Regions from separate parts of the Homo sapiens genome. Here all the other regions are linked to region 4. The links come from fine-mapping of genetic effects on gene expression. A gene starts in region 4. Each other region holds a variant in brackets. All regions are shown on one strand. Distances are between the middles of the regions.

Region 1 (4,069 bases), 160 kb before region 4:
TTATTTGTTCATTCATTTTGTATTAATTTTATTATAAATGTGAACCAAATGAAGACCAAAGGGGGCTTGGATTTGCCCACGTCCTCGGGAGGAAAGGAAAGACTACCCTCAGCAAGAGTGTCGGCCACTGCCGCCCTTCAGTTCACCAGACAGCACAGTGTCCAGTCTGTTGGCTAGGATTGCTGGGTTCAGTATGATCTCTTTTTCCTAGTAGGTCTTGAATCAGTAATTTTATTAACTATTATAAGGTTCATGTTACAGTGTTATTTTAATTGCAATATCAATTCACATTTCAGGATTCACTGTTTGCCTGTTATCTTGGCAACACTAAATCTATTAATACAATATCTTATATCTTTCATTTACATGCAGACTGCAAGTACCTGAAATGAAAATCAACAACTAATTCAAGACTACCTTAAAAAATTAAACTCATATTTTTAGTATCTACTCCCTATAATTCTTAATGTTGTTTTCTTTTAATTACTTAATTTGCCTAAGTAGCCTAGCTTCTGTCGTTATTATAATATTGTATCTGCTCTTGATTTTATTTTATAGAGCTATCTGAATTAAGCAACAAACCAGATGAAACATTTAACAGTTTAATTTGAAAAGAGTAAAATAAATATAGAGGATTTCACTGCATTCTGTAGTGCATGAAAAATGTAGCTTTTATTATTTATTTATTTATTTATTTATTTTTGAGACGGAGTTTTGCTGTTGTTGCCCAGGCTGGAGTTCAGTGATGTGATCTCGGCTCACTGCAACCTCTGCCTCCTGGGTTCAAGCGATTGTCCTGCCTCAGCCTCCAGAGGAGCTGGGACTACAGTCACGTGCCACCACACCCGGCTAATTTTGTATTTTTAGTAGAGACAGGGTTTCCCCATATTGGCTAAGATGTTCTCAATCTCCTGACCTTTCGATCTGCCCACCTCGGCCTCCCAAAGTGCTGGGATTACAGGCATGAGCCACTGTGCCTGGCCAAATGTAGCTATTCTTATGCAACATCTAACTCTGCCTGACAACTAGGCACAGTCCCCACGATCATGCTAAGGTTTTCAATCACATCATAATCTCTGCAACTGGACAGGAATAAGAGGATTCAGATGAACCCTTAAGTATAAATAAATGTCAGTATAGATTCAGAAAAAAAAAAAAACCCACTTAGGGGTATTTGTAGTAACAAAAATAGTGGCTACCATGTATCTACATGTACTGGGAACTCAATTTTTCCGATGTAGAGAGAGATTAAGCAATTGACCCAAGGTGGTGCATATAATAAGCAAGCTCCTGAGGGCAAAGGCTGGATCTTATTTATCATTTTACCCAGAAAGCCTCAGAATGCATGGCACAATCATTGCTGGAAGGGTGCCTGAGTTTTATTTTTAATGTTAGAGTTTGTTTTGTTCTCTCTCTTTCTCTGTGTGTGTGTGTGTGTGTTGTATGTTGTATTAGGATGAGGTAGCTCTTAAAATAAGAGGTTGATCCAGGGGACAATTACAATTATTTTCTAATTGATTTAGATAACTTATAGTGTAATAGTTTTTAGAGGATTTGGTGCATTTATCTGTAAAATAACCTCCCTAAGGGATATAACTATCCTTCTTGTGATAGATGCTTTCTCAAATCCTTATAAGTAACAATAGAAAAAAAAAAAAAGAGACCATGTTACATAACATAGCAAAAGGGAAGCCTTCCTGTTTTATTCTACTAAAAAAACCCCAAACCCCAAAAACAAACGCCTGTCTGTAGGCTGAAGTTAGGTCCAGTTGGTTTATTTGGCTTTCACCTCAGTGAGTGCTTTCACCAAAGGTAGAAGGCATTCTTGGCTTCACTCCCTGAAATAAGGTTTGACAGCTGTTCGATTCCACAGAGCAGTATTACATAACAAGGCAGTTCAAGAAGCAAAAAAGAAAACCACCTTGAAATGAGGCTTTGGTGAGTGGGCCCGTGGTTATACAGAATACACTTTTACCACCATAATGACAAGGATACATGAATGATTATCGTCATGGAAATGCTACGGTTTTTCCCCACACAAATTTCTGAACTGTACATACATAGATGTGTATATCACAATCAGTGACCTTCTAAGCGAGCGTCTGTGTGGGAGAGAACTGCACCTGCCACAGAGTCTG[G/C]GATGTTCTTGGAAGTCAAGTATGACTTTCCTCCTTTCTTATTTTTTATAGTGCCACCCCACAGAAACATTTTTAAATAACAGAGAGTAACTTCAATGGAAAGAGTCAATTCCGAGATTTCTGACCTTATTAGCAACTCTAAATAATATGTAATGCAACTCATTGTCTAAAATGAACTCTTTCTTGAGCATAAATACTCTAAGAACAAGTCCAAGCTGGTTTTCATTATTTTTCAGCTCCAGAGAAGGAAGAAGCTTTCCATTTTTTAAGGCTTAAAAAAAACACCCAAGTATCTTTAAAGCAGTTTAGATACCAAGGTAAGAGTTACAGTTGATGGCAGAGTCAGAACTTTCCAGCTGTGTAGAATTTATTCATTAAAGCCATGTGTTAAAATTGAGAAACAACTGGAAGATACAAACACAAAAAGAGTTTGTTTATGCAAATTCTTGAATAGACCTCCTAGTTGCTCTTAATCAATATTGATAAAAAGCATGTATAATGAACTTGACCTAGCACTCAAATGGCATTCTTAGTAGGTTTTTGCTGTTTTTGCTGAACAAATCAGAGTACATCTTTGGAGATATATTTAAGATCTCAGCTATTTCTAAACAGTGTACATACAATTTCCTCTTTATTAGTAACCCAAAGACTTCTTTTTTGACATAACTTCATATTGGCAAAAGGATTTATTTGGGGTCATTTTCCTGATAAAAATCCTGTTAGATCAGGTTGTATATCATGCAAAAAGAAACTGAGGCCTAGAAGCCTGAATGTATTGCTTAGGTTCCTAAATGAAAGATGTAGTGAATGCTAGATACACATATGATACCTCTTTTCTATCCGGTATTTAATCTACTAAGTTGCCTCTATTTCATTTTAAATCAAGATATTGGTTGAAAGGTAAGGTCCTTAATATGTTTAAAGAGGAAGAAGAAAACGTTATTTAGTTTATTTTAAAATATTAGCAATTTTTACATAGCCCACATATTTAAGAAACATAATTTTATTAGGTAATTTCTCCTTCATCCCAAAATGATCTGAAGATCACAAAAACCTATTCCTCACTATGGAAAATGCAGAGCATATGGGTGGGGGGGGGGGTGTTGGTATTTAGTGTTTGAGTAAAATAAATACTGGTGTTAAAAATCAGAATAAATTGCAAATGTGGAATGAAATTATCTATTTCAGAGCCTGGTGCATTATAGGTGCTGAATAAATGTTGAATAAATAAATAAATGAAAGATCATGATTTCCAGCTTTATCACATTTTGAAACCAAATTATTCCCTTTCTAAAATAAAACCTAATGATACTTTGTCTAAACTAAGAACATTCATGTCTCAAGAACCGCATCACAAAGTTGTCTAACTATTGGGAAGTTACTATAGAAATGCCAGTGCATCTACCTATTAAATGTAACTGGGTCTACTTATGCACCACCTCACGTTGTTTAATCTCTGAATTAGATTGCAAAGGACAGAAATTCAAGGCCTTATATCATGCTATAAATACAGACTAGATCTACATACAGCTTGAATCAACACACATATCACCTTGAAAGAAAATTCAAGTACAGTTGATAAACCACATTAACACAATAATTAAAAACTACACATACGCATACATGGTGAAAGCAAATACTCAAAAAGTGAGGAGAAGCTGCTAGTGTCAGCAGCATCAACAGTCCCATGGTAGCCATCCTCCTTTCATCATGGTCAATTCATTAACAGGGGAGAAAAGACAGAAACTATGAGAAATGCAAACCATCTGCTCAATCCAGATGCAACAGCACATGCCTCTTATATCCAAAGCTTTTTACCAGAAACACAGATCTAATCCTCTCATAAAATCTCCAACAGAGGTATTCAGACACATTTGTATCACAAATAAAAACAATGCCAAAATCATCATTAACTGAGACCTTTTAAATAT
Region 2 (4,069 bases), 52 kb before region 4:
GATTATATTAGCCCTATTTGAACTTTTAAAATCTGAAATATCCTTTACTTGGTGAAATAATATTCTCTAGAAAACAAGGAAAGGAAAATAAAGAACTAAAACCCTAGATGTTTAAAAAGAAATATCCTAACGCAGTTTAAAGAGCAGCATGGAATCAAGTATCTCCCTTATGTTTTGGGAAAGTAATTATTTAAAAGTTAGATCACCTTTTTTTGCCTCTTTTCACTTATTCTTTCTATCAACATAGCCTCCTGAATTATTGTCATTTAAATATTCCTTTCTTCACATAAAGAATCAGGACCTGAAAATAATTAGACTGTTTGAATTCTCAGTGTCTCCTTGTATTAGCTTCATTAGCCACTCTGAACAAGTGGTCTCAAGTTTCACTACATGGAATTCATATAAGCTCAGAGGGATGAAATGCATTCCAGACGGAAAACCATATACTGTACAGACTTTGTGTAAACACTTACTTAACCACAATTATTTCTATGCTACTCCCAAACCTTGTTTAAATTAATTTTTCAACAATGGGTACAAAATGGAATGAGTATTTCTATCTAATAATCCCATATTTTTATATTACTTATAAAGCACTATAACCCACACAATTATTTGTAGACTTACAGTAAGATTTCCAAACAGGAGGTCTATATTCATCTGTATCTGAAAGAAAAAACATCAAATTAACATTACTGAATATTTAAATTTTAAATGAGACATTTTAATCATTAACTCATTTAATATATATCTGTTGAGATCTATTTGTTCTAGGTATTGTGCTAGGCACTAAGGGGCATTCAAGGGTTTTTTTTTAGTCTTGGTCCTTACTTAGTTGGAGTAATTTTACAAAGATGTTTAAATAAAGTTACTGTATTTATTCAATTGCTAATTACATAAAAACATCAAGGTTAACTTTTACTGCTGGTACTCATTTCTTACTATCACTGAAGTAATAGTCAATAAAGGCTTTGTTTCTTTGGGCTTAATGATTATTTCACTGAAAGATCCCTAAAATTATTGAATTTTTCTTTTTCAGTCAAATTCACCAGATTAATCATTTTAATCACCGCAAAAGTTAAGTATTTCTATTATTTTCCCCCGTTACATTTGGGGGATTCCAATGTACATGGTTTTACTAACATGAAGAAAGAAGGAACAGCAAGGTTCAGATCTCAGTCCTCACACATCCTGGACAATCAAAACCAGGAAATGAGAAACACTTCAATGGAAGAGAGTGTATCTAGGGAACCACAACGAACATGAGGTGAACATCTGCTCTTCAAGTCCATTTCCCCTCATGTTGCCTGAGTGCAGATGTAGGAGACAGTATAAATAGGAAGTGGAAAGAGATGGAAATACAAACACATGACGGACGTGGAGTTATCAGAGAAAGAAGAAGGGGCCAGTGTAGCTTCTGGCTACGCTGTGTGGCTTCTCATCAGTAAAGCATAGCTGGGGACTAATTTTTGCCAGTCAAAAGCTCTGCCTGCAAGACTATATAGCCACGACTGCAGAAACATTTTTTGGTATAGAAAGGTATGGCCAGCCACATCACCTGGCTCTGCTGGAAACCAACATGAACCCATTAGGCAATCTGATCCAAAAATTTTGATCTCCAAGGAAGCAAAAAAAAAAAAAAAATCCCTGGAAAGTTTATTGAGAAGACTAAACAAGTAGCTCAGGTAAAATGGTCATAGACATAAGACATTCAGCCTCCAATCTGCAACCTTTAAACTGCAATATCACACTTCATTTATAATGTGTTATCATAAACCACACAAATACTTTGAGAAAAAGGGTTACAGCAAGACTGCTAATAGTGGGCATAAGAACATAACATGGAAATTTTAAATCATGTGGAAATTGCTTGGCACCCCATAGAGTGTTCAAATATGTCTGCTTCAAGAGAAAGAAATAATGGGCATCCAAATTGGTAAGTCAAACTGTTGTTGTTTGCTGATGACATGATCGCACACCTAGAAAACCCTAAATACTCATCCAAAAAGCTCCTAGAACTGGTAAATGAATTCAGCAAAGTTTCCAAAGTTAATGTACACAAATCAGTAGCTCTGCTATACACCAACTGTGACCAAGCTGAGAATCAAGTCAAGAACTCAATCTCTTATACAAAAGCTGCAAAAAACAAACAAAAAACAAAAACAAAAAC[C/A]AAAAAAACTTAGGAATACACATAACCAAGGAGGTGAAAGACCTCTGCAAGGAAAACTGCAAAACACTACTGAAAGAAATCATAGATGAAACAAACAAATGGAAACACATCCCATGCTCACGGATGCATAGCATCAATATTGTGAAAATGACCATACTACCAAAAGTAATCTGCAAATTCAATGCAACTCCCATCAAAATACCACCATTATTCTTCACAGAACTAGAAAACACAATCCTAAAATTCATATGGAACCAAAAGAGAGCCTGCACAGCCATAGCAAGACTATGCAAAAAGAACAAATCTGAAGGCATTACATTACCCAGTTTCAAACTATACTATAAGGCCATAGTTACCAAAACAGCATAGTACTGGTATCAAAATAAGGATATGGACCAGTGAAACAGAATAGAGAATCCAGAAATAAAGCCAAATACTTACAGCCAACTGACCTTCAACAAAGCAAACAAAAACATTAAGTGGGGAAAGGATACCCTAATTCAACAAATGGTGCTGGGAAAATTGGCAAGCCACATGTAGAAGAACAAAAGTGGATCCTCGTTTCTCACCCTATACAAAAATCAACTCAAGATGGATCAAAGACTTAAATTTAAGACCTGAAATCATAAAAATTCTAGAAGATAACATTGGAAAACCCCTTCTAGATACTGGCTTAGGCAAAGACTTCATGACCAAGAACCCAAAAGCAAACGGAACAAAAGCAAAGATAAATAGATGGAACTTAATTAAATGAAAAAGTTTCTTCATAGCAAAAGAAATAATCAGCAAAGCAAACAGACAACCCACAGAATAGGAGAAATCTTCACAATCTATACATCCGACAAAGGACTAATATCCAGAATCTACAAGGAACTCAAACAAATCAGCAAGAACAAAACAAGCAATCCCATCAAAAAGTGGGCTAAGGACATGAATAAACAATTTTTAAAAGATGATATACAAATAGTCAACAAACATGAAAAAATGTTCAACATCACTAATTATCAGGGAAATGCAAATCAAAACCCCAATATGTTAACACCTCACTCCTACAAGAGTGGCCATAATTAAAAAATCAAAAAATAATAAATGGTGTGGATGTGGTGAAAGGGAATACTTTTACACTGTTGGTGGGAATGTAAACTAGTACAATCACTATGGAAAACCGTGTGGAGATTCCTTAAAGAACTAAAAGTAGATCTACCATTTGATCCAGTAATTCCACTCCTGGGTATCTACCCAGAAGAAAAGAAGTCATTATATGAAAAAGACACTTGCACACGCATGTTTATAGCAGCACAATTCACAAATGCAAAGATATGGAACCAGCCCAAATGCCCATCAATCAACAAGTGGATAAAGAAAATGCGGTATATACATCTATATATCTATATATATAGATCTATAGATCTATAGATCTAATATAGATCTATATATCTCTATATATCTATGTCTATATATCTCTATATATCTATATCTATATATATATATATAATTGATATATATATATATCTATATAGATATAGATATATAGAGATAAATAGATAGACATATATATATACACACCATGGAATACAACTCAGCCATAAAACAGAATGAAATAATGGCATTTGCAGCAGTTCAGGTGAACTTACCCAGATGGAATTGGAGACCATTATTTTAAGTGAAGTAACTCAGGAATGGAAAACCAAACGTCATATGTTCTCACTTACAGGAGGGAGTTAAGCTATGAGGACACAAAGGCATAAGAATGATACAATGGACTTTGGGGAGTGAGGGGAAAGGATGGACGGGGAGAGGAATAAAAGACTACCCACTGGGTACAGTGTACAATGCTCGGGTGATAGGTGCACCAAATTCTCAGAAATCACCACTAAAGAACTTATTCATGTAACCAAA
Region 3 (4,069 bases), 220 kb before region 4:
CTTGTTGCCAGTTTTTGTCCACCAATCAATCAATTATCAATTCAGTGATGCCCCCAGATATGTTATATCTAACAGTCAATAGGAGAATCTTGAACAAAGAAGACATACAGAAACCTTCAGAGAAAAATAGAAAGTGAATAAGAGAATTAAAAAATAGATGCCATTGTTCTCATTGCCAAACTCTATTGGAAAACAATCCTCAGCTGCTCCAGGAAACGCATTAATCAGAAGTCTCCCGGGCTTGCTGTGGAAAATAGTTTGGTAGTTCCTTACAAAGTGAATCATAGAATTACCTTACAATCCAGCGATTCTACTTCGGTTATATATCCAAGAGAATTGAAAGCAGGGACTCAAACAGACCCTTGTGCACCATAGCCTTATTCACCATAGCCAGAGGTGGAAAAACCCAAGTGCCCATCCACAGATGAATGGATAAACAAAATGCAGCACATCTATATAATGGAATATGATTCAGCCTTAAAAAGAATGAAGCATTGAGACTGCTACAACATGGATGCACCTTGAACCCGTGCCAAGGGAAATAAGCCAGTCGCCAAGGGACAATATTATAGAATTATTCCATTTCTATCAGGTACCTAGAATAAGCAAATTCACAGAGACTGAAAATAGAACAGTAGTTAGCGGGGGCTAGGAAAAGAAGGGCATAGTTATTGTGTGTGTGTCGTTGGTTTGCTTCTTTGAGACAGAATCTCACTCTATTACCCAGACTGCAGTGCAGTGGCACAATCTCTGCTCACTGCGGTCTTGACCTCCTGGGCTAGGGTGATTCTCCCACTTCAGCCTCCCGAATAGCTGGGACTACAGGCATGCACCACCATACCTGGCTAATCTTTGTAATTTTTGTAAAGACTGGGTTTTGCCAAGCTTCCCAGGCTGGTCTTGAACTCCTGAGCTCAAGCGGTGATCTGCCTGGCTCAGCCTCCCAAAGTGCTGGGTCTGCAGGTAGCTATCATGCCCCTTGAGAGTTTTTTTTTTTTTTTTTGAGACAGAGTCTTGCTCTGTCACTTATCCTGGAGGGCAGTGGCACGATCTCAGCTCACTGCGACCTCCGCCCCCCGGGTTCAAGCAATTCTCCTGCCTCAGCCTGAGTAGCTGGGATTACAGGCGTGTGTGGCCACCCCCAGCTAATTTTTGTATTTTTAGTAGAGACGGGTTTTACCATGTTGGCCATGGCTGGTCTTGAACTCCTGACTTCAAGTAATCCACCCGCCTCATCCTCCCAAACTGCTGGGATTAGGGGCATGAGCCACCACGCCCAGCTGAGAGTTATTGTTTCACAGGTACAGTTTCTATTTGTCATGATGATAAAGTTCTGTAGATGGATGGCACAACACTGTAAATATAATTAATACCACTGAATTGTACATTTAAAAATGGCTACAATGGTAATTTTATGTATATTTTACCATATTCCAAAAAGAAGTCCACAGAAGCTCAAAAAATTGTTCCTGTGTGTTGAGATAGAGGAGAGAGGCCTGGGCTGTGGAATCATTTACTGAATACCAAGAAAGAAAACAAGGTAAACTTTCCTTGTTGAAGGTTGAAGAAGAAAAAAATGCTTTCTTTGGCCTATCCCTGGAGCTTCTGCTACTGTTGGGCCAGCCTCTGGCAGCAGCACAGAGATAGATGTTAAACAGCGCGGGTAGACCTGGGTGCTTTCAGAAAAGTGGCCCCTGCCCCTTCTTCCTATCCTCATCCCTCAACAAAGGCTGAACCCTGGTTACCCTCCAAAAGCCTGTTTTCTGGGAAATTGCCTTTTAGAATTTTTCTTTAAATGTATGAATCCACCCTGAATGCTATTTGAAAAAGAAAAGGAATTTAAAGATGTTGAAGTATGCTTACATATACACAATGGAAAAATTTGCTTCTCAAACAGCCTGAGTAGAAAACCTCGCATCCCCATGGCAACCAGATTCCACTGTGACCACACATCAAATGGGTGGGTGACCTGGCAATGTAGGCCTGGGCTCTTCAGCCCCTCCCTGCGAACATATGGGGCCCAGATGTACCACCCACTGCAGTAGGGTGCTTGAAGCTCCAGGATGGCTGGCTGAGGGCTCTGTTCTAGTCACTAAGGGATATTCCTGGAGACCCATCTAACCTGGGACAGGGAATCAGTTCTTCCTGAAAATCATAGAGGGGCAGGAGACTCTCCCT[C/T]AAGCCATTGCCCCGGGGAAATGCAAGACCCCTGTGGCTACTCAGGGGCTTGGATTACTAGGATGAGTGGTTGGGATTTAAAACAATTGTGTGCTGCTGACCAGAAAACCAGGCCCTTGGTAACACAAGAACTGCAAGTCCTGATCAGTTAAAAACCTAAAGAATAATCAGATCCTTAATGCTTCATTTCCTTGAACAGACATCTGACCCTTTTATAGAGTTTGTGTCATCTTCCCCTTTGATCATCTTCCCCTTTGATCATTCAGAACAAGTACTTCTTTCCAAACTACGGTCTCAGTCCCATTTTCAAATAGTATTTTGGAATGGCTAGCCTATGATAACCCCACCTCCCTTCCTGTTGAGCTTCCTAATGATACCGAAGGGAAGAGCGTGGTCCCTTTAAGTGATACGGAAGCGGGGGCGGGGGGGGGGGGGGAGGGAAGGGCGTGGCCCCTGGCTAGGGCTCCACCCCTACGAGCCTAGATGAGGACAGGCATTTTTGTTTTCCTGCTCAAATGCTGCATTTCCCAAGACCACCCTGGCCTGCCACGCCCCCATCCTGTGCCTATAAAAATCCTGAGGCCCTAGCAGGCAGACACACAGATGGCAGGACGTGGAGAGGAGCACAATGGCGGAGGAACTAGGCCACTGACCGGCAGAAGCAGAATGATGCTGTGGCAGTCGGATGAGAGCCCAGGCCGCTGAGCTGTCGACTCCAGGGGGGAAGCCTTCCCACTCCATCACCTTCTGACTTCCCCCATCTGCTGAGAGCTGCCTTTACTCAAAATCTTGCACTCATTCTCCAAGCCCAGGTGTGATCCGATTCTTCAGTTACAGCAAAGCAAGCACCCAGGATACAGAAAGCCCCCTGTTGTTGCAACAAGGCAGAGGGTCTAATTGAGCTGGTTAATACAAGCTGCCTATAGACGACAAAACTAAAAGAGCGCAGGGTAGCACACGCCCACTGGGGCTTCAGGAGCTGTAAACATCCACCCCTCGACACTGCCGTGGGGTTGGAGCCCGGTAGCCTTCGCGTCTGTATGCTCCCTAGAGGCCTGAGTAATGGGGCACTGAAGAAGCAAGCCGGTCCCCGTGTCGCACGCCCTGCAAGGGCGACAAGTGAACTTTTCCCATTTCACTAAGGTCTTTCTTTTACGAAATTGATGTATAATAGTTGTACATGTATATGGGGGTACGTATAATATCTTGATACCTGTATACAATTTGTAATTATCAAGTCAGCTGATTGGGAAATCTATCACTTCAAACATTTTTGAGTTGGGAGAGTCACAATTCTTCTAGCTATTTTGACATAGACAATAAATGATTAACTATAACTTCCCTGCTATACTATCGAATACTACAACTTACTCCTTCTATCTAACAGTATTTTTGTCCCCATTAACCAACGTCTCGTCATCCTCCATCCCTTCCCAGCCTCTGGTAACCACCATTCTCTCTCTATTTCTATGAGATTCACGGTTTTTTTTAGCTCCCACACATGAGTAACATGTTATTTTACTTAACATAATGTCCTCCAGTTTCATCCATGTTGCTGCAAATGACAGGAGTTTTTTATTTTTATTTTTATTTTTTTTTTTTTGAGACAGAGTCTCGCTCTGTCGCCCAGGCTGGAGTGCAGTGACGCGATCTCGGCTCACTGCAAGCTCCGCCTCCCGGGTTCACGCCATTCTCCTGCCTCAGCCTCCCGAGTGGCTGGGACTACAGGCGCCCACCACCACGCCCGGCTAATTTTTTGTATTTTTAGTAGAGACCGGGTTTCACTGTGTTAGCCAGGATGCCCTCGATCTCCTGACATCTTGATCCGCCCGCCTCCGCCTCCCAAAGTGCTGGGATTACAGGCGTGAGCCACCACGCCTGGCCCGGATTT
Region 4 (4,069 bases):
TGGGCAAAAGAATCTACATTTTTAATAGACATCCCAGATGACTGATGAGTGGTGTACAACCACTTTTAAAAACAGCTGCTGCTCTATCACTACTTAACAAATAGCCTCTGCACTCAAGAGTGCTTTGTTTTATAACACAGAAACGTTCACACTGTAACAAACTGGATTTTGGGAAGTGAATTCTATTTTCCCATAAGTAGACTTTAAAATTTTAAAGATACATTATTCATTTTGAAGGCTGGGAGTGATTTCTTATACTTTCTTCTATAGGCCACATTCCATGCTTTTCCCTTCCTCATCTTCACCACAGTGGTTAAAGATTTAGAATTTAGAAATCCTTTTAAAAGAGCATTTTTCACCCCAATTTATCTTTTTTATTCGTCAGGAATGCGAGTATTTGAAAAGTTGACTTGTAAACCTTACTTCTGAAACCACACCTTGAAAATGCCAAATATCTCTTTAGGAAAGAAAATGTTTGTACCAAAAAGGTCCACATTTAAGGAAAATGCTGCTATTAAATAATGCTTAGATACAAGGTACTGAGAAACAGCGAGAATTTTATTATTTTTCAGAAAAAGAAGACACTTTTTTAAAGTACCTATGGAGGATCATCACCAAGTAAGAAATGGCACTTCTAGTAATGCACTTGGGCACAGTAAACACAGTCCCAGACTGAAGCCTGGTGAAGTGAATTCTAGGCTCAGTTTTGCCACAAAAGAGCCATGTGACTTTGGGAAACAACCTCTCTGGGTCTAAGTTTAATTTATAAAATAAGATAGTTAAATAAAAGTAACACTTTGATTCTAGCAGCTTAATTCACTGGGAAGTATTTACCTCAAAAAGCATTTGAGGTATGTAACACCTCTAACGTGTTTGATCAAATGACATAATTAAAACTGAACTGGAAACTTGATATTGTGAATAACTTACTTAGGCTGTTCTCGTAGCTATCAATTACATATCATTGTACTTTGCTTCTTCAAAAAAGCTGAATACTTTGAACGTCTAATGTTCACATATTGAGTTTTCTTAAAGTCAGGTACGTATGTACCATAGTCGTTTTGTAAAAGGAAAGAATGTATCTTTTCAGTCCTTTTTCCCAACCCATTGTCATTGCAGACTGAGAAAAAAACAGCTTGAAGTCTTAACCACCAAAAGCAACAGTGCTGCAGTAATTACACCACAAAAATAACATTTCATTCTTAATGAATACTCAGTCTCCTGAGATTACAGTTATCTTCTGGTAACCAACTTTATTCTGTCTGCTCTCATTCGTTAGTGCAAACATTTTCAATTTTAACCCATATTCAGTTCACAAATCATACTTATTTCCAACGGAATATACTGAGTCCAAAAAAAAAATTCCCCAATAGTCCAACAGGAAGCAACACATGCATTTGGCAATTCCAAGGAGGCTGGGGACTCACAGATACCTCGTTCAAAATAAATAAACTTTCCAAGGATTTATTTACCGACGGGAAAGGCAGGTTTGAAAACAACCAGTTAACTTCACTCCCAAGTTGGCATCTTAGAGAATCTTTGTGCGTTTGCAAAACACCCAGGACCTCTGAGCCTCCCAGCCGAGAATTGGCCAGGGGAGCACACGCCCATCGGCCCTGCCGGGAGAGGAAACAATGGGAGAGGCGCGAGGGAGCAAGCCGGCGCCCCGGGCGCCCCAACTCTGCGGCCCCGGCCCGCCCCGACCCCACGCGCCGCGCCCCCTCCCCGGGCGCCCAGGCCCCCCAGGCCCCCGCCCCCGAGCCCCGGGACGCGGCCCACCTGCGGCGGCGCGGGGAGACGGCTGCACTTACCAAACAGGGTCAGGGCCATTGTAAAGGCGCTCGCCGCCGCCCGCGAGTCCAGGCGCTCCTCCCAGGCGGGCTAGGGATCACCTCATCAGCCCGCCGCACCCACACCTCGGAGAGAGTGGGGTGCCCGATGGGGCGTGCTGGGGGCGCCGGCGCCCGGGGAGGCTGCAGGCCGGGACGCGGGGGACCGCTGCAAGAAAAAGTTATTCACGCGTTATTGTCGGGCGCACCGGGCCCAGGGAGCCCCGCTAGCTCTCCGCGAGCCGGCACTTGTCGCTGCCATCAGGCGCGGAGCGTGCGCGCGGGAGGAGGTACCTGCGAGGCAGGAGGCTTGGCCGCGGCGCAGTGGCTGGCGGAGAGGCGGCGCCGCACTGGCGGCGGCGGCGGCGGCGACGGGGAGAGCAGCAGCAGCCTCGCACAGCCCCCGGCGGGGCGCGCTCACTCCGCATCCCGCGGCCTCGCAGACGCCATCTTGCGATAGCGTCTCCCACGAGCTCGGCCGCGCCGCTGCCTCCCGCCTCTCCCTCGGGCTTCCCGGTCGAGTGCGTTCCCATGGCAACGGGCGCGCGCGGGGGTAAGAGGGTGCGCCCTCATTCCCGCGGCTGCGAGGAGCCACCAGCGCCCCCCTGGAGGCGGCCGCCCGGAGCGGGATGGAGCGGGGCCGGTGTGCGTTTTAGCTGAAAGCCCAGGTTTTTTCTTGAATGGAATTTGAGGAGGCGCAGAGAGGAGAAAAACGCTGTTACTCGAAAGAGGAAGAGTCACAGGAGGATGCTGAGTGAACGCAGCGCCCAGGCAGGGTCATCTGGGGACCTGGTGCGTGTGAGAACATATTTCTTCTCCTGGCGCCCTCCAGGCTCACTGTGGCTGGAGCCGGTGACCTGAAGCTGCAGGGCTCTGGTAGGAACAGAGGCACTGAAAGCTGCATTCCTCTCCGTTTGGACTTAGGAGCTGCTAGTAGTTCTGATGAAATTGACACACATTAGGAAAAGGAGTCGCTTAAAAAGCATCTGAGATTACCTAAGATAATTTGTTAAAAGACCAATGCTTACACCTGATTTTCTTCCCTTTACATTATACCTCTTTGATATTGTCTCAAGGAAAAAAAAATCAGCATGTGTCACTGACTGGCACTTATTTGCCACAAAAGATTGTTCCCCTGAGCTTCTTGTATTTATCTGATAATCACTGGCAACGTCCTCCTTTCTGTGATGTTGTCTCCTCACCTCTGTCTCTGCCATGAGGAGCCATACAACGCCTTGAGATTGTCAGCCAAAAGATGTTCTTGAAAAGCTGGGTTATATGTTTTTCGTCGTTGTCGTTTAATGTATTCAAAAAGTCATTCTTCTCTAGTTGCTATATGTGTTCCCTGTTTAAGAAATTCCTTCTTTTTTCTTGTTTCTCTGCTTAGGGATTTGATACTATTTTGGTATCTGATCATGTAGATCTTCTCTTTGGTTCTCCTTTCTTTCTACAGGCGTCTTTCCTCTTAGTTCCTCAGGTTCCCTAGTGTCTTCTCTCCCATTTTCAAATAATTCTTTAAGAATATTATAGAAATATCTTGTATTTAATGTATCTTAGAGATCGAATCCTGATAAAGTGGGAGATTACTACAGTACTTCCAATGGAACCACAGTTAATTCACCATCATTATTTCAAAGCAGACTTAAGCATCAGAAGAAAAGCAGGTTGGAAGGAGGAGCCAAGCCTTTTGTTTCAAGTCAGTTAACTCAGGAAGAAAGAAATATTAAAATGATTCAACATGAATGGGCAAGTGTTTAAGATGCTATATGTTTGGAATTTTGTGATGTAAAATGGCTCTCTTTAGCCACTAATCAAAATACATCTTTAAAATCCCCAGAATTTAAAATCTTTCATGAAAATGGACTCTTGATTTTGAACAACCTTTCTGCTCATAAAAAATTACAAACACACAGCTCATGAAAATAAATGAGAAACTCAAGAAAGCTTTGTGGGATAGATTTTATAACCATATAAAGATTGCTGCTAATCTGCTCTGCAGCCAAATAAATCAGAAACCGAAGACTCCATTTACTGTTTCAACTAGTGGTCTTCAACATTTTTGGACCAAATTTCCTTTTGAGGCTCTAATGAAAATACTGTCCCTCCTCTTAGAAAAGTGCTTGCATACATACACACATTCACCGGAAATTTTTCACATAATTTCAAGGGGATTATGGGCTATTCAGGGACCTTAGGTGAGCCCCTGGAAGTGTTTTTTGTAATCTCAGAAAGTTTTTGCC
Region 5 (4,069 bases), 24 kb after region 4:
TGCTGCCCAGGCTGGAGTGCAATGGCACAATCTCGGCTCACCACAACCTCTGCCTCCCGGGTTCAAGCGATTCTCCTGCCTCAGCCTCCAGAGTAGCTGGGATTATAGGCATGTGCCACCACGCCAGGCTAATTTTGTACTTTTAGTGGAGACGGGGTTTCTCCATGTTGGTCAGGCTGGTCTTGAACTCCAGACCTTAGGTGATCTGCCTGTCTCGGCCTCCCAAAGTGCTGGGATTACAGACATGAGCCACCGTGCCTGGCCCATGCTAATAATTTTTGAATGATAGAGTTGAGATGGAAAATGTGTTGATATGCTATCAATGAATGATATGCTAAAACCTCAGTTACTCAGTTACTACATGAAATGCCTAACTTCCCTGAGAAGCAGTTTTTTTCTTCACCATTTAACCAGGCAAATATAAAGTCTACATTCAGGCTCAAATACCTGGACATTAGACAGTTTAACAGAAGTTCATGGATTAAGGACTCCAAGTCTTCCCACTCCATATCTTGCTTTGAAAAAAGAAAATATGAAAAAATAAAAAAAATTTTAAAAGACTCTGAGTTAGGAAGTTGACATGAGATTAGCTGATGTCAAGTTCATTTTGAGCTGGTAAAATGGCAAGGCTATCATAAAACTTTCAAAGATGAGACTCCATTGCTAGAAGTAGTGTGTCTTAATTATGGAAGATTATAATTTTTGAGTTCTCTCCTCAGCACCCATCAAAATAGAGTATGTACTCAGCACTTTGATGGGCTGGAAAGCCCTGGAGGAGGATGAGAAGAGAGACAACCATGTAATCTGAAGAACAGTTGAGAGCCTTTAAAAGGCTTGTTCTGAAATAACACAAGATGCAAAGCAGATGAAATAACAGTCTTCGGATACCAGAAGTACCGTCCTGTAGAAGAGGGATGGGACTTCACCTGACTTGCTCCTGAAGCCCTGGGAGGAAAGGCCTGGTGCAGACTCCAGCCCAGTGGGAGACATGCTCTTTCCCAGCGGCAGCTGCCTGGAGGGCCACAGTCCACTGGCCCCAAGAGGAGCCAGGTAAATGTCATTTCAGGGACACATGAACAAGGAATTCTAAATGGGAGATAGGTGGATCATTCAGGAATGCTCTGTTTCATTTCCTATTCTAAAAACACATGACTCTTTTGAGATTTTTGTTTAGGTTTAAAGGAGGATAACCAAACACTAGACCGATGAATTGCAGTTTTTAAAAAGTAGAAGCAGCTGCCTGTTGGCTTTTGCCCTAAAGTCCCGTGGGAGTGGAAAGAGGCATGACTGTTTCCCAGGACAGATTGTTCCCAACTGGTCTCACTTTCAGGATTGTGCCCACGTGGTCAAAGTTGAGTCTACTTTCCGTATTGCTGATGCCTGTGGCCATAGCCATGGAAGGACGTGGAAGAAGCCGTGGTCCTGCCCCTGTGTAAGATGAAGACTTGTGAAACCACTGGGTCATCGTTTTTCATTTTGGTCACTTGCTGTCAGCCTTGGAGGCACAGGAAACAGAGTAGATGGTGCAAATCCGCCTGCAAGCGCATTTTCTTTCTAAAGAAAGTGTTGCCAGACTATTTGCTCACAGAACAACCACTGGCTAGATGAGCCCACACTAAGTAAACACAAAGGAATTAAATCAGG[T/C]GGATCCGAATTCCTCTGTTTATTTACTCCACAGTGAAAATGGCTTACTTTTTCTTTAAAAAAAGAACTTTGTTCTCAAAAGCTGCCCCACCTCTAATGCTACTTTTTTAAAAAGAAAAAATATACATATAAGAAGATACATTAAAAGGCTATTGTTCAAAAAATCTATTTCTTGTACGTTGTAGATTTAAATAGTGGTGAAAAACAGCCCATGAAATCTTTGATATACATGTGTGTTTGTAGGGAAAAAAAAGTAAATATCAGGCTGTGCTCAGTGGCTTATGCCCATAATCCCAACATTTTGAGAGGCCGAGGTGCAGAGATCACCTGAGGTCAGGAGTTCAAGACCAGCCTGGCCAACATGGTGAAACCCCGTCTCTAAAAACACAAAAATTAGCCGGGTGTGGTGGCAGGCACCTATAATCTCAGCTACTCGGGAGGCTGAGGCAGGAGAATCGCTTGAACCTGGGAGAAGGAGGTTGCAGTGAGCTGAGATCATGCCATTGCACTCCAGCCTGGGTGGCAGAGCGAGACTCCATCTCAAAAAAAAAAGAGTAAATATCTTGTAATATAGAAAATCTTAATTAAATACACCTTGTTTAACTAAATAGAGGCAGCAAGAGGGGGGAGTTGCCCTGGATTATTTTTGTTTGTTTGTTTTGGGGTTTGTTTTTTCTGATTATAAGAGCAATATATGATCATGGTAGGAAAATCTGGAAAATTATGAAGCTTTCTATGTTCACAGAATGAATATAAAACAAAAAAGTACATGTTTTAGGTGGCTAGTTTTACATTTATTAAATGTATTACTTAAAATAAAATGCTTTAAATGCCCTAACAATAAGTGCTGGCTGGTTAATCTCCCTCTGAGGATCTCAGAGCAATTTACCAATACCCCTGCTCTGACTGTAAAAAGGGTATGATGAGTCTTCCGGACTTTAAAAGCATATTGATCCTTTCAAGCTCTTCAAGTACTCAGCACTGATTAATTCATTGGAAAGTAGTCTCAAAAGGGCATTGTTCTGATGCAGTCTATGCTTATAACTTTGTGGACTCCTTTGCTGGCAACCAAGACCCACTCAGAAAATTCTGGGTCAGAAAATAGAAGGCTAGCATTTAAAGATCCTCAGTTAAGTATATGGCCAATTCATTTTTACTAAAATTGTGTTCTCTTGGGCAGCACATATACTAAAAAATTGGAACAATACAAAGAAGATTAGCATGGCCCCTATGGAAGGATGACACACAAATTCATGACACATTGCATATTTTAAAAAGAAAAATTAATAAATAAAATTATTTTGCTAATGGGGTTTCCTTCTTTGCATGTCTATGAATTGGAGACAGTTTAGCGCTTCCTAGCAGTCCTGAGCCCTGGGATTCCCTAAATGTGGTCCCTGAACAAGAAGCATTAATATTACCTGGGAATAGCAATCTGTGTTTCAATAAGCCCTCTAGGTGATCCGGAAGCACATGAAAGTTTGAGAATCACTGTCTTAGCTGTTTTCCCCCTGAATGCAGAAATTAGCTCCAATTGACTCATGCTGTCAGACTTCATTTACGTGTGTATACCTGGATCTGGGGGATGATTATATGGGGACACATGTCCATAAAAATTCTCTGAGCTTTACACTTAAGATACATACATTTTACTGAATTTAATTAAACCTAATGAAAAAAACAACACTGCTAAATTATATTTCTAAGAAAGTTGGTCGGGTTCAGCTTGTCTCTTGAATAAAGGTGGTGAGATCCAAGGGCCTTGCCCATAGCATCACTGCCATGATGAGAGATTCCATGATACTGACAGCCAAGGACATCTGTGTGTAGCAACCCCAAAGACATATATTGACATTGTTTAGCAGTAAGTCAATCTCCAAGCAATAACCTCAACTTGTTTGACATCATCCTGGGTACATCTCTGAGTTGTGGGGCACAGCCACAGGAAACCCTAACATGAAACCAAAAGGGGCAGGTAGAAAAAAGTGCTGGACTTTTAAACTAGAGAAGGAAAGCATGAGAAACCTAGGAAGCAGTGATTAAATGCAGCCAATCAGGTGGTACGTACAAGTGTTGGGCAAGAGAGAAGCTGTGGTCAAAGGCCGTAAGAGACACAGCAAGGACAGCAGAGCTGCCCAGGCAGCCTCTCTGCTGACATAGTCCATAGAAGACGGTTGTGGGAAAGAGGGAGGAAGAGTGACCCACAGGCCAAGAAGAGCTTCACAGGGCCACAGCTTTAGCAGCTGTCTGTCTGCTGTCTTGGCCCTAAGGATGAGGTGGAGACCCCTAAGAGCCCTGGTGTCAATTGTGCATCCAGTCTCAGAATCACAGAAATTCTGTTCCTCAGTGCTGAAGTGTTTTGTGTGTCCCTAAAGGAAAAGCACTCCCGGAGCTGCCAGGTTCCCATCCCGACCCATGAAGAACT
Region 6 (4,069 bases), 150 kb before region 4:
ATAAGATACAGTCTTATTTTTTCACTTATAAATTCTTGGAGGGTGGCAGATTGTGGTCCTGATGTATTGGTAACAACCTATACTATAAACGGAACATGTCCTTATTCTGAATTATGCAACAATATATAAATATAAACGAAATTATATAAGAATAAAATGTTCTAATCTAACACTATCTAATGTTTGGTTACCAGGAATGATGGTTGTATAACAACATTCTTCCTAGGCTCTTCCTAATCAAAAGCTGAAACTGGGCTTCATGAGAAGGTCCTCTTGATCTTCCCCCCAACCCCCATGAATCTGAGGGGATACTTGGGGAAATGTGCCATTACATTTTTATTTTTGTCAATTTTTACCCAATTTTTGACACCTATTACCTGCAAGACTTAAAGAAACACTATTATTGTTCTGTGGCAATAGAGAAGGTGAAATCAGAGAAGGTCTAACACTTTGTCAACAATAAGGAACTTTAAATCTAGTGCAAAATTCTTGAATCATAAACATTTTCACTTTTTCAAAAAGCTTTTGGATATAATATACATATAAAAAATACAACTAAAAGGCAGACTCAGATTGATATTATTAGGAGTGTTTTCAGATTTTAAACTGCTATATGAGGTTATTTCAAGTTATTGCATCTCAGCAAACACTCTATACTCACTAATTTAATGGAGGCAATCTAGTATATCAAAACAAAAGCTAAAGGTTGTATTTTTAGTTTTCTCATTCCTTTAGTGACTTCTGTTGATTAGGCTGGGATGAAGCCTAAGTGATTTGGTTATTTTAAAAAGGGCCTGTTACAGACTTCTTTAAACTTCAGTTAGAAAAGCTAATTTCCTTTCTATGGCAAAAATAAACCACAGTTTGATTAGAATATATCAATTGTAATTTATTTAAAATATTCATTTTAAGCCTCAATAGAGATATATATTGATTCATGGTATAAAGCAGATTTGTGATCTTCAAACATACTTTTGAAAATTTGCTTTTATTTTGAAAATGGCAACAGTGGCCTGAAGACAAAAGATTTAACGTTTATAAACAATTACCCTGGGAAGAAGTACAAGCATGGGCATAAATCACAGATGTGTTAATTGTCCACTGTCCTGCCATACATTTAATTTTCTTTGTAATGACTCTGCTATACTTATTGCACGTTTTATAAGATAATGATGTTTGAAAAGTAAAAGTAGCTTGCTTTTGGGCATTTTCTAAAACAAACTTTTTATATCATGTCCATAGCATTTCATTTATGAAATTCCTGTTAGTTCAAAGGATCCTAATAAAACTAATAGAAAACTTAACAACCCCTAACTTATATGCTCTTCATATAAGAGATAGTCATTAGGTTCTTATTTTTATACAGACTGTGTCCCATATGGAACTCAGTATCTTAAGAGTGATTTGAGGCATCTGTACAAGGTCCACATGTGGTCAGTATGTTAGAAAGGAAGACACAGAAAGTCAGACTGCAACAAGTGGCACTTGTGAGGAAGAAGAAAAGATTAAAGGATGATTAATATCTTTCAGTGACATTTTAATGGACTGAGAAAAATCTACCATGCTGATTTCCTCCTCTACACACACACACACACACACACACACACACACACAAAACCAAACAAACAAAAACAAAGGTTAAAGTAAGATAGCAATTGAAGATTTTAGGTTGATAAGCTCAAATGTTATTTGAGGCTATCTGGCCAGCTGAGACTGGTACATTACTACCTTGTCCACTAAAATGCCCCTAATAGCAACCAACAGTGACTAGGGATGTGCATAGATCCAGGAGTGGCTCTCCAAGCTCCTCAGAATGTACCTAAGCTTATTTAATACAAAAATATTTTCAGTCCATTACTACTGAGTAAAACTAACGCTCTAGGAAGATATGTCATATTCACCTTTAGGTTTAGCATATCCTTGACAACTAGCAGGGAAAACATAGTTTCAGGAGAACAGGCTTGGGTGCCCAA[G/A]GGAGGACTCAGAAACCTCTTCCAGGCCTAGGCCTGATTCTATAACCAGGTGGCATATCAAGAAGTAATCTGTGAGGTAACTGGTTTAATAATCCGGTACTAATTCTACTTCACAATAATTTTAATTACTGTAGTCTTCTGCCAACCCGGCTAAAAAGAAATCCAGGCACACTTTTACACTGTCCCCAAATCAGTAGCACTTAGAGCTTTACATTCCACAAAGTGATATGTCATATATACTATTTCATTGTAACTTCCTATTCTTGTTTTTCAAAAGGCAAATTCACTGATGTTAAGGTGTTTGTTCAGGGCAGATAGTAAGCAAAGCAGCCAAGATGGAAACCAGGCCTTCTGACTTCCCTATCCTCTCTCTACTCTACTGTGCTTGCCTGAGACCTAGGGATATAACAGGCTGACTCTTAACCCTAAGTAAGGCTCAGCTGTCACAAAGACCCAGAATCATCAGCAAACAGAAACACTCACAACTGAAAATGACCACTCTTAATTCAGTTCTAAGCCTGACAATTGGTTTACAACATACAGAGAAGTAAGGTCAGCCTTGGTGATTAACCTCGGCATTAAAAAAAAACTTTTCCATTATTTTGATGGTGGGGGATAGGAGGTAAAGTGATATGTTGATCTCATTTAGATACATGCAGTTTTTTGTCAGATAATATATCAGGGCTTCAAACAGAGTTACTGAGTAGCATGCCTTTTTGTTTTTGTTAATTTTGCACTGGCTTTTCCTGATCTTTAAATAAAAACAAATCAATAAAACTACCTCCAAACCAATGAAATGAGAGCGTAGTCTCTTGAGCAACTAATTAAACTGTTTTTAGAAATAGCTAATTAAGCTTTCCATTAAAATCCACCAAATAGACATACATAATTTACAAGGTGGAAAGCCATTTCAATCTCATGGGTAAAACAATTAAACAAGTCTTAAATTTATAACAGAGACTGCAGATTGGTAATTCAGTGAGTAATTATATAATTAGGATGTATTTTATCTTTAAAAGAATATAATGTAAAAAAATAAATTTTTGGGTGCTAGACATATGGCCAAAGTGTAAAAACTTCATAAAACCCACAAATTCATTTAATGAAACTACTGAAATGCTCAAAGTATATATGTACAATACTAAGTGCTCATAAATAGTTTTCACTCAGCATACATTTTATTGAGTATCTATTATATGCTAGGCACTAATGAAACTGTAGCTTCATACCAGAGACTAGGGTGGTATACTATTTTACAAGGACCAAATATTAAATACATATTTAATAAATAAATTGTAATTGAGATAAGTGCTGCATGAATAATGTATTTTTGCACCGTATTTTTGTCCCATAATCACATTTTCTAACAAAAGTTGAATTTGTCCGTGAAATCTATGACCATGCCCTCCTTCCAAACTGCTCCCTCCCCTCATGGGCTTTCTGACACTCTCACAGATGACTTCTACACCTCTCTCCATCCCAGATTTCTCGCTCTTTCCAATATGGATGTGCTTTTAAAGCCCTCTGAAGTCCAAACCACAGGGTAGTTTGTGACCATCTCATACGGTCCTTTTATCAGAAATAATACAGACAGGGAGCTGCAGTTTATAAACTCTCCTCCTCAATCTGCCTAATCCCTCCTTCCATAAAGCATTTAAAAAATTAAATTGTTTTAAATTTAAAAATTTAAAATTTTTAAAATTCAGTGTTAAGTGGTTAAAAGCTTGGCTCTTGAGTAAAAACTAGCTGTAAAAGAATCTTAGCTCCATTTACTAGTTATGGGATCTTAGATAAGTCTCAGTTTATTTGTAAAACTGGAATGAAGATAGTACCTATACTTCATGGGGACTGGAAGGATGAGATAATATAGGTAGAATGTATGGAATATACATAAGGCATATATTTTTAGTACCCAGCATGCAGAGAGCTCTCAAAACTCTCAAAGACTATGTGGTGATGCTGATATTGATACTGTTATCATCATTAGCATCAGTCTTATAGCTTAACACAAGGCTTGGGACAAAGTAGATGCTAAATAAATGTTAAAAGAATGAGCAAAATTCATGGCACATTCGTAAGCCTCTCTGAATTCTTCA
Region 7 (4,069 bases), 180 kb before region 4:
GCCTTTTCCAGTTTCCAAAGACCACCTGCATTCCTTGGCTTCTGGCTCCTTCCTCTGTCTTCAAAGCCAGCAGCATAGCATCTTCTCTTCCCTCTGACCTCTGCTTCTGTCCTTATATCATCTTTCTCTATCAACCTCTCGCCTCCCTTTTATAAGGGCCATTATGATTGTGATTATACTAGGCCTCCCTTGACAATCTAGGGTACTTTCCCTGCTGTGGTTTGAAAGTGTCCCCTCAAAAATTCAGGTGTTGCTAATGTGAGAGTATTAAGAGAAGGGACCTTTCAGAGATGATTAGCTTATGAGGGCGCCTCCCCTGTGAATGGGATTAGGCGCTCTTATAAAGGGGCTTGACAGAGGGAGTTGGCCCCTTTTATACTCTTCTGCCAAATCATGAGGACACTGCATTGTAGGCACCTCCCCTCTGGAGGACATAGCTTTCCAGGCGCCATCTTGGAAGCAGAGTTGGACCCTTACCAGACACTGAACCTGCTGCCAGCTTGATCTTGGACTTCCTGGCCTCCAGAACTGTGAGAAATAAATTTCTGTTATTTACAAATTACCCAGTCTGTGGTATTTTGTCATAGCAACCCAAAACTCCCCATCTCAATATCCTTAATTTAAATGACATCTGCAACATTCTTCGTGCCATGAAAGGAACAAGGAATGTTGTTCTGGGAATTAGAAGCGGACATCTCTGGGGAGCTATTTTTCAGCTTATCACAGCTAGTGTGCACTCTCTCTTTAAATTCTCAATTCTTTGCGTTTGGATTTAGATAGTCAAAGGCCAGATGAGCCTCAAAGCCACTTCAGACCTAAGAATCTCACTGTCAATCCAAATATAATTAGTTGTCATAGAAAACAGAATGAATTCAAATTCCAACCCTCCGTGTTTTCAAAATGAGTTGACTTGTGCTTGTATTACACATTAATATGGTTCAAATCACACTGAATATAATGCTTTTAAGGACAAGATATAACATAAAATGAAAAATCTCCTCAAGGCTTTTCTTTCAATTCCTGACCTTTACTCACAATAAGAGGTAGAGGCTATTAATGTGGGTGGCTGTGGAGATGGGGATGAATTCTTTCTCCTTTCCCCCATATTATTGACATGATAAATGTTCCAAAACATTTCTTTCCAACATGATTGGGGTTGTAGCGTATTCCCAAAGATTATTCATAGGTGCTGTACCTATTCTCTATTAATAGTTAAGAATTCTTATGTAGATGGGCTTCACTTTTTCAAAATGGAAACAATATACACCCTTACTCATGAAAGAAAAGCTTTTAAGTTTGTGACAGTCATAAAACATTTAAAAAACTATTGCAGAGTATCAGCTGGACAAGACTGTCTCATAAAGGCAAACTGGGCTCATTGAGACCATTGTTCTCGAGCAGGCAATTTGTGCTTTGGAAAGAGTATTCCATCTGCCTTTGTGAAACTGCAATGCACACTGCCTCAATACCTCCACTTTATCAACACTTTCCATTCTACTGTTTCCCTCCAGTGCAAAGGCACAACCATGGCCTTCTTCATCCCAACTCTGGATAACCACCAGCCACAGCAAGGCTTTCCTCATTCACTCTGAGCTTCGACTCTGAGCTGAGGCGCTCCCTGACGAACACCTTTGCACAGCTCCAAGTCCACACGTGTAGGATTCTTATCCCACTTCCTGTGGCAGGAAGGTCCTTGAATGGTGATATATGCCTGGAACCTTATTA[C/T]ATTTTAGTGATACTAAGGGAATAATAACTGAAAGAAGAGCGACTTGGAACATTTCCATGCAATACATACTATATCTTGCTATTCAAAGGAAATGCAATTTAGAAATAAGAATCAGACCCCAGAAATTTCTGCACATAATGGACAACAAAAATATTCCATTTAAAAATCATGCCACAAAAGAAATGATGTTTATAGCGATAAATCTGACAGTTACTATAGTTACCATTTTGAAATACTTTACTTAGTATATTTTTTAGTGTAAAGCTTCATGCTAAAAGACATGTAAGAAGATATTTTTTAGTTTTACAAATTAAATGGCAGAAGGAAACTTTTATGACCAAATAATAGACATTTAAAATTTACATGATTATTTTTAAGCCTATGTCAGAATTTAGAGTAGTTTGGGCTGGGTGCGGTGGCTCACGCCTGTAATCCCAGCACTTTGGGAGGCTGAGGCGGGTGGATCACGAGGTCAGGAGATCGAGACCATCCTGGCTAACATGGTGAAACCCCGTCTCTACTAAAAATACAAAAAATTAGCTGGGTGTGGTGGCGGGCACCTGTAGTCCCAGCTACTCGGGAGGCTGAGGCAGGAGAATGGCCTGAACCTGGGAGGCGGAGCTTGCAGTGAGCCGAGATCGCGCTACTGCACTCCAGCCTGGGAGACAGAGTGAGACTCTGTCTCAGAAAAAAAAAAAAAGAATTTAAAGTAGTTTGGATAAATGGCCAGTATTCAGTATAGTTGCTCTATACAAATGGATTTCACGTGATATACATAAGTACTTTATTTCACAAAGTATCTCAAATACATCCTTGTGTTGGCTATTTCTGTATGTGTAAATCTTTTGGTTTCTAAATTTGTATCTAAATATTCATGGTCATATTTTACAAAAAGTATTTGATGTATTTGATTTCAAAACATCACACAGAAAATATTAGTGACTAAGTGGTTTTTCAGAATTTGGTAACCATCTTTGAAGATGAATTCACAGATTTTTAAAGCTTCAATTTGATTTCACAAAAATTTAGTAAGGACAATCCAGCTTAACAAGTTATCTTTAAAATTCAGTTTCCAAGGCAACAATCATAGGTCCCTGTACATTGCTTTAAAAAAATCATTTTTATAAATTTAGTTACTGCAACATCAAAGGCAAGTATTAAATATAACTGCCTTACTTTTATCTCCTTTTATCAGACTTTTTGAACAAGCTGACTTCTCTCTTTTCAGTGGACTAATGCCAGATCCCTAGTGTGCTGTCCATCAAGTGCCAGAAGGTTAAGAGCAGATAAAATATCAAATTTCCAAAGTGGCTGCCTGAGAATCTGGCCTACTGCATGTGCATAAGACCAAACCAGGATCCAGCCTACTGGATATGCATAACAACAAGTCTCCTTCTACCTCACCTCTTATAACTTCACAACTGACTCAATCCAGAGACAAGACAAGAGCTCTTACCTGCACATTTCACTCCCTGAGCAATGAGACCCCACATAAAGTTGGCACAGTATTCACACCAGTGTGGCCCTCTGAATGTATGCACCTGAAAAAAAAAAAGAGGGGCAAAGTCAGGAAAGGGGAAACACACGGATGAGAAGACTGCTTCATATCAAAGCACTAATATACAAGCCACATATTCTATATATATATATATATGAGAGAAAGAGAAATGGGGTCTCACTGTTGCCCAGGCTGGAGTGCAGTGGTGTATCACAGCTCACTGAGGCCTCCCTCAAGTGATCCTCCCACCTCAGCCTCCTGAGTAGCTGGGACTACAGGCACACACGACCACACCCAGATAATTTTTGTATTTTTTGTAGAGACAGGGTTTTACCATGTTGCTCAGGCTAGTCTTGAACTTCTGAGCTCAAGCATCTGCCTGCCTTGGCCTCCCAAAGTGCTGGGATTACAGGTGTGAGCCACTGCACCCAGCCCATGGTTAGTAATGAAGCGCCAACATGGCTGCATTTAAAAGAACCTTGGTTGAGTGAAACTGACAAGCAGTTAACATTTTTTTCAGAGCTTGATTTCTTCTTTGTTTTAGGAATGATAAATCAGACCAATATTCTGTAACTTACTTTCGAAAACTATATAATGGAGTTTTCCAATGTCCCCTCAGGTGCAGGCACCCTAATCTATACAAATACTGGCATTTCTATGTACTATGCTATTTCTACAGTACTATGACATGAAAAGGCATGAGTGCCCATATAGAGTATGTCTTGGGTCCTGTTAGGAATTTTGCAGATAATTTACCTTCTGTGACTATGAGTAGGATCACAGACATTAAAGGAGATACTTATTGATGGGTCACATCAGAATCATCAAAAAGGCCCAATTTCTGT

Direction of the effects. Positions count from the first base shown, and alleles are read on the strand shown. Sizes are in standard deviations (SD) of each study's normalised expression. Not every link is listed here.
In carriers of allele T in region 5, the expression in tibial artery of the gene that starts at base 2,299 in region 4 tends to be lower than with C alone (large effect, 0.82 SD a copy in GTEx).

Evidence for each region. PIP is the estimated chance that this variant, and not a neighbour inherited with it, causes the effect.
Region 1: its variant is fine-mapped to the expression of CHN1 in whole blood (TOPMed, PIP 0.97).
Region 2: its variant is fine-mapped to the expression of CHN1 in whole blood (INTERVAL, PIP 0.99).
Region 3: its variant is fine-mapped to the expression of CHN1 in whole blood (TOPMed, PIP above 0.99).
Region 5: its variant is fine-mapped to the expression of CHN1 in tibial artery (GTEx, PIP above 0.99). The same link has a PIP of 0.9 or more in aorta, coronary artery, esophagus mucosa, ileum, stomach and subcutaneous fat.
Region 6: its variant is fine-mapped to the expression of CHN1 in whole blood (TOPMed, PIP above 0.99).
Region 7: its variant is fine-mapped to the expression of CHN1 in whole blood (TOPMed, PIP above 0.99).

Annotation. Positions count from the first base shown.
Region 1 is chr2:174,842,554-174,846,622 of GRCh38, forward strand. All of the region lies in intron 7 of CHN1 (chimerin 1), which reads right to left. Among named protein-coding and RNA genes, the nearest start is that of CHRNA1, 80 kb to the left of the region's middle. The variant G/C (reference allele first, on the strand shown) is at 2,139.
Region 2 is chr2:174,951,537-174,955,605 of GRCh38, forward strand. CHN1 (chimerin 1) reads right to left here. Exons shown (of 13, transcript NM_001822.7): 2 at 628-666. Among named protein-coding and RNA genes, the nearest start is that of CHN1, 52 kb to the right of the region's middle. The variant C/A (reference allele first, on the strand shown) is at 2,171.
Region 3 is chr2:174,786,011-174,790,079 of GRCh38, forward strand. LOC124907908 (a long non-coding RNA gene) reads right to left here and starts at 1,940. Exons shown (of 2, transcript XR_007087311.1): 1 at 1,864-1,940. RefSeq lists enhancers at 1,303-2,118, 2,531-2,825. The variant C/T (reference allele first, on the strand shown) is at 2,179.
Region 4 is chr2:175,003,083-175,007,151 of GRCh38, forward strand. CHN1 (chimerin 1) reads right to left here and starts at 2,299. Exons shown (of 13, transcript NM_001822.7): 1 at 1,812-2,299. The coding sequence starts at 1,830. RefSeq lists an enhancer at 1,469-2,015 and a silencer at 2,000-2,059.
Region 5 is chr2:175,026,961-175,031,029 of GRCh38, forward strand. It overlaps the pseudogene RNU6-1290P. Among named protein-coding and RNA genes, the nearest start is that of CHN1, 24 kb to the left of the region's middle. The variant T/C (reference allele first, on the strand shown) is at 1,645.
Region 6 is chr2:174,857,401-174,861,469 of GRCh38, forward strand. All of the region lies in intron 6 of CHN1 (chimerin 1), which reads right to left. Among named protein-coding and RNA genes, the nearest start is that of CHRNA1, 95 kb to the left of the region's middle. The variant G/A (reference allele first, on the strand shown) is at 1,974.
Region 7 is chr2:174,821,252-174,825,320 of GRCh38, forward strand. CHN1 (chimerin 1) reads right to left here. Exons shown (of 13, transcript NM_001822.7): 8 at 3,183-3,267. Among named protein-coding and RNA genes, the nearest start is that of CHRNA1, 59 kb to the left of the region's middle. The variant C/T (reference allele first, on the strand shown) is at 1,726.